Linked DNA regions of Homo sapiens: region 2 is linked to region 1. Evidence: fine-mapped expression QTL. Tissue or cell type: whole blood. Region 1 holds a variant in brackets; the other region holds the start of a gene. All regions are shown on one strand. Distances are between the middles of the regions. Region 1 overlaps LOC124904436 (a long non-coding RNA gene). Region 2 holds the start of SLAMF8 (SLAM family member 8).

Region 1 (2,921 bases):
GAGTCATTTGGTCTGATGAAATTCCACATATATTACTGATATTAATACAAAATCAAAACATCAGAGAACTATAAAAAGTATACTTCCTTGACACAATAAAAAAATGCTTACTTCATACCTAAAAGTCAAGCACAAGGGGCATTCCCATTAAAATTAGGTACCGTATAAAGATGCCTGCTATTATGAGCCTTGTGTTAGTCAAGGTTCTTCAGAGAAACAGAGCCAGTAGGATATGAGAGGGGATTTATGAGGGAATTGGCTGCTCACATGACCACAGAGGCAAAGTCCCACGACCAGCCACCTGTAAGCTAAAGAGAACCAGGGAACTCAGAACCAGGGAAGCTGACCGTGCAGCCTCCAGTCTGGGGCCAAAGGCCTGAGAGCCCTGGGAGGTCACTGGTGCAAGTCCCAGAGTCCAAAAGCCAAAGAACCTGGAGCCTGATGTCCAAGGGCAAGAGGAGGAAAAGCCTCCCACTCCAGAGGAAAGACAGCAGAGACAGAGAATCTGCTGTCTTTCTCCTGTTTGTTCCAACCAGGCCCCCAACCAGTTGGACAATGCCTGCCCCCATCGAGGGCAAGTCTTCTTCTCTCAGTCCACTGACTCACCCACCAATCTCTCCTGGAAACAGACACACCCAGAAACAAACCAGCCATTTAGGCATCTCTCAATCTCCTCATGTTAAAAATTAAAGTTAAAATTAACAGTCATAACGATTATTCAAAATGTGAGAAATTTTTAGGCAACTGTAATAAGGCGAGAAGAAAGAATTAGAAAGTATATATTTTGGAAAGAGAAGATAAAATTATAATTTTTTGCATGATGATATAATTACTTGAAACCCCAAGAAAATTAGCCACAAAACAGTTAGTACTAATTAGAGAATTCGTGTAATGTGTCCAATTGCAAAATAAATATACAAAACTTAATAGCATCCTGAAATGCCTTCAGGGATTAGGCAGACAACAAAAATGAATAAAGTACACTGGTGGGGACCTTTCCTGATGATGGGAAGCAATTGCCTCCCAGCTCCTGCACATTTTTGTCAAGGGAGACTGTGAGTCTAGAGTTGCCAGATATTCTGATTTTTAAGGAGAATTTGTAAAAACAGATTCTTGTATAAAACTTTCTGATTTTTAGATGCAGATAACTAATTCAAAAATATTCTGAACTAAATATATTCATAGGCTAGATATGGCCATGGGCCTCCAGTGTGCAACTTTTGATCAGTGCTTCCCTTTATAATTAATCTGCAAATATAGCAGAAGTAATGTGAAATGGTATAAAAAATTGATTAATCTTTGAATAGTGAATCATTTGAAATAAATTAAATTAAATTTCTACTTCTTGTATTATACCAAATAAAGTCTACAGGGTAATGATTTAAAGCAAAAAATGGAACTAAACAAGCAGTAGAAAATATATATATAGGAAAGTATTTATATAATTTCAAGTTGGGAAATGCTTTCTCAAAAATAACAAAAGAAAATATTTGCAAACTATTCATTTGACAAGGGACTAATATCTAAAATATACAAGAAACTCAACTCAATACCAAAAAAAAACAAATAATTATATTAAAAGTGGGCAAAGAATCGGAATAGACATTTCTCAAAAGGAGACATACAAATACACAATAAGTATATTTTT[T/A]AAATGCTTAACACCACTAATTAGGGAAATGCAAGTCAAAATCACAATGAGATATCACCTTATCCCAGTTAGAATAGCTATTATCAGGGAAAAAAACAAATGCTGACAAGGATGTGGAGAAGGGGAACTGTTATACACTGTTGGCGGGAATGTAAGTTAGCATAGTTACTACGATAAGAGTATGAAGATTTCTCGAAAAACTTAAAGTAGACCTACCATGCAATCCAGCAATTCCACTACTGGGTATTTATCCAAAGGAAAGGAAATCAGTGTATCAAAGGGGTATCTGCACTCCTATATTTAATGTAGGACTATTCACAATAGCATAGATATGGAAGCAAACTGTGTCCATCAAGGGGAAAATGGATAAAGAAAATGTATATATACACAATGGAATACTATTTGGCCATAAAAAACGGGATGAAATCCTATTATTTGCAGCAACATGGATGGAACTAGAGGTCATTATGTCGAGTGAAATAAACCAAGCACAGAAAGACAAATCACTCATATGTGAGAGCTAAAAAATTTGATCGCAGGGAGTTAGAGAGTAGAATGATAGATACCAGAGGGCGGGAAGGGTGTGTATGTGGATGGGGGGGATGAAAAGAGGTTGATTAATGAGTAAAAACAAACACTTAGACGAAAGGAAAAAGCTGTAAAGTTTGATAGCAGAGTGAGGTGACTATAGTTAACAACAATACCTTGTATATTTCAAAATAGCTGGGAGAGAAGACTTGAAATGTTCCCAATACAAAGAAATGATAAATGTTTGAGGTGGTGAATATCCTAAATGCCCTGACTTGATCACTACACATTCCATGCATGTATCAAAATAGCACTTGTACCCTATAAATACATACAAATATGTATCAAAAAATAATGTCTACAATAACAACATTTTAAAAATAGCAACAGAGAAATCACAAAAAGAAAAACTGGCCTAAATTACATATATTTTTTAACCATTTCAGATCAAAAAATAAAAGGCCAATGGCAGACTAGAAAAAATATTTAAAACACATAGACTCAATATCCATTTATAGAGATACTGGTCCTACAAATCAATAACAAGCATCTTCAGAGAATATTGAGTACAGGATATAGAAAAGCAAGTCATTAAATTAGAAATGCCAATAGCTAACAAGTGTAAGACAAAAACATTCAACCTCACAAGTAATCAAATAAATACAAATTAAACCACTGATGAGATACCATTTTCCCTATTGATTTGACAAACATTTTTGAAATTGTTTTTGAGACCCAGTGTTAA
Region 2 (2,921 bases), 190 kb before region 1:
CAGCCACATCCCTGCACGCTCTGCTCTCCCCTCCTGCCCAGAGCCCACCCCCAACCTCTGGCTCTCTCCTTTCCTCATATTATCTAAACCATGCCCATCTTCAAGGCACAGCTCAAATTCCACCTTCTCAAGAAGCGTCCCCTGCCCAGATCCGCGAAGCCCTCTTTCCCACCCACTTCTGAGGACTGACTACCTGTTTGCACAAAGTGGTGTCTGTCTGCAGATAACCCTTCACTTTCCTTGGTGTACCTATCTCTACATTTTGGTTGTGAGTACCTGGAGGGCAAAAACCTTATCCCAAAATCCTCCTGCTCACCACCCACCCCCACCCCATCCTATATGCCTAGTTCCTGGCTGAGTCCAAAGCTCAGTGTCCAGTTTGATTGACAGGCGAGAGGCTGTGCAGGACCAGATACGATGAGCCACACTCCAGACTAGCAGGAATTTTCCTCAGGGGCAACACGTCCTCTAAAAACCTTCACTGGCAAGAAACCAAGAAACTTGAAGTGAGAAGAGAAACAGGATGAGGAGGGGATAACTGTGGCAAAATAGACCACACTTCAAAGGCTGAGGTTCAAGTTCCAGCTCTGCCTCTCTGTGAGCTCTGCAAGGGGCCTAACCTCACTCTGGTTTTCACATTTTCCCATTTCTAACCAGGTAACAAGATGATCCTCTCAGAGGAGAGTTGCAAGGCTTACATAAAGCCAGATGTGTAGCCATGTCTAGAATGTACTCACTCACTTAACAAATACTCATGAAACATCTGTAATGTGCCAAGCACTGAGGGCAACACAGAAGGGAACAAAAGACTGGCTAAACAGTCTGTGAAAACCAGAAAACTGTCATCAACAACACAGCAAGAGTAAAGAGGGAGGTGTGGGCATGCACAGGACACAAGGAGAGGGCCTCTCACCTGCCTGTGGTCAGGAAGCCTGGAAGGATGTCCTCGCCGACTGCACAGCCATGTTCTGTTTGCAAGGATAGAGGGAGCAGCATGCCTAGTCGGGGTGGTGGGGAAAGTACAACACAGGGAAGTGTGAAATCAGTAGTTCTGAGAAGGAGGCCTTCTGGCTTGGGATGGCTGGAGGGCAGAATGACTGTGGGCGACCAGCCTGGAGAAGAAGGCCTGACTCAGGAGGGCCTGCATGCAGAGCAGAGTTAGTCCTCATCCTCAGGTCCACGGGAGGCCACAGAAGCATTTTAAGCTAGAATGAGGATGACAGATAGTAGTGAGGCAGGCTGAGATGCAGGAAGGCCAGCGAGATCCAGCAAGGAGGATGTGGCTTGTGTGGGGGCTGTTGTCGCCACGTGTTAGCCAACCATGTGCATGTGAAAGAGGCTGACTTACAAGAATCTGCTCCTGTAAGCCCAGAGAGGCCCAGGGACAACTTCCACTTTATTCTGGATGTTTTCACTTTTGGGACATCCTGTTCTGAGTCAAGATTCCTCCTTCTGAACATGGGACTTTCCAGAAGGACCACAGCTCCTCCCGTGCATCCACTCGGCCTGGGAGGTTCTGGATTTTGGCTGTCGAGGGAGTTTGCCTGCCTCTCCAGAGAAAGATGGTCATGAGGCCCCTGTGGAGTCTGCTTCTCTGGGAAGGTAAGTGGGGCAGGCAGATAGCCTGTCCTCGGAGAGCTGAAGGCCCCTCCCCAGCTGCCTATGCCAGACGTCTGGGCAGGGATCCCTCGACCTGGGTGAGAACCCAGAAGCTGAGGGTGGGTAGGAAAGACTAGAACAAGCTCTTGGGCAACATTTTAAGCTAGGCAGATACAAAGAGATGCAGGGTCCTGGGAGGGAGGAGGTGGCAGCTTGAGGGGTATTCTTATCTGTGAGACATGAGCTGTTTTGTGGCCCAGAGCAGTAAAAACGGAGCCAGTGGGTGATACTGCTGGTTTGGAGAGAAAGTCGGCTGTGAGAATGGTGAGGACCCGGCAGTGTTAGCATGCAGAAACTCTGCAGAGTTTGAGGAGAGTAGCAGAGGGCAGGGCAGAGCAGGGTTCCCCACAATCAGCAGAGTGTGTTTTCAACAGCCTGTGGGGGAGCTGAGGTCCCTCCCTACAGGCCTTTATAAGGGGAGGCAAGTACTAAGTAGGGATGAGAGAGGCTAAATGTGGCCCACGTGGACTTAGGGGTGGCCGACGGTGGTGTGATGTTGGGATGGCTGATACACGGGGTCTCCTCCACACCGGGCGATCCCTCTATCCATCTGATGCCTGAGTTCCCTTCCTTGGTCAACAAGCAGCCAACATGACATGGGTCAACACTGCCGGGCCATGGATGAGGGTTTATGGGGTGCAGCAAAGATTAAGATGATATTGTTTACATCAGAGGCTCATAGGGACTTTGGGTTGCTTTGTTTCATCTCCTTGCCTGAGTTCCTGGCCCTGAGAGCTCCAAAGCCTGCAGATTTCTTCAATATTTCTAAACATGTGCAGGAAATCACACCTTAACCTCAAAAAAGGCCTTGGTCTGTTTGGTGAGACAAAAATAATTTGCCTTTTTTTTTTTTCTTTGAGACGGAGTCTTGCTCTGTCACCCAGGCTGGAATGCAATGGTGCATCTCAGCTCACTGTAACCTCTGCCTCCTGGGTTCAAGCGATTCTCCTGTCTCAGCCTCCTGAGTAGCTGGGATTACAGGTCACTGCCACTAAACCCGGCTAATGTTTGTATTTTTAGTAGAGACAGGGTTTCATCATGTTGACCAGGCTGGTCTCAAACTCCTGACCTCAAGTGATCCGCCCTCCTCAGCCTCCCAAAGTGCTGGAATTACAGGCATGAGCCACCACACCCAGCCCAAAAATAATTTTTCAAATGGCCCTTAATGATCAAAGATCTGTGTGACTGACCTGGTACAGACCCCTTATTTTTCAGTGGTACTGAAGCCTGGGGCAGGGTGATGTGTGGAAGGGCACACAGCT

Evidence for each region. PIP is the estimated chance that this variant, and not a neighbour inherited with it, causes the effect. A credible set is the group of variants that fine-mapping cannot tell apart.
Region 2: SLAMF8 starts here. The variant in region 1 is the best candidate, but not a certain one, in a credible set for the expression of SLAMF8 in whole blood (INTERVAL, PIP 0.63).

The regions. Positions count from the first base shown.
Region 1 is chr1:160,011,678-160,014,598 of GRCh38, forward strand. All of the region lies in intron 3 of LOC124904436 (a long non-coding RNA gene), which reads right to left. Among named protein-coding and RNA genes, the nearest start is that of PIGM, 19 kb to the right of the region's middle. The variant T/A (reference allele first, on the strand shown) is at 1,649.
Region 2 is chr1:159,825,337-159,828,257 of GRCh38, forward strand. SLAMF8 (SLAM family member 8) reads left to right here and starts at 1,537. Exons shown (of 5, transcript NM_020125.3): 1 at 1,537-1,602. The coding sequence starts at 1,563.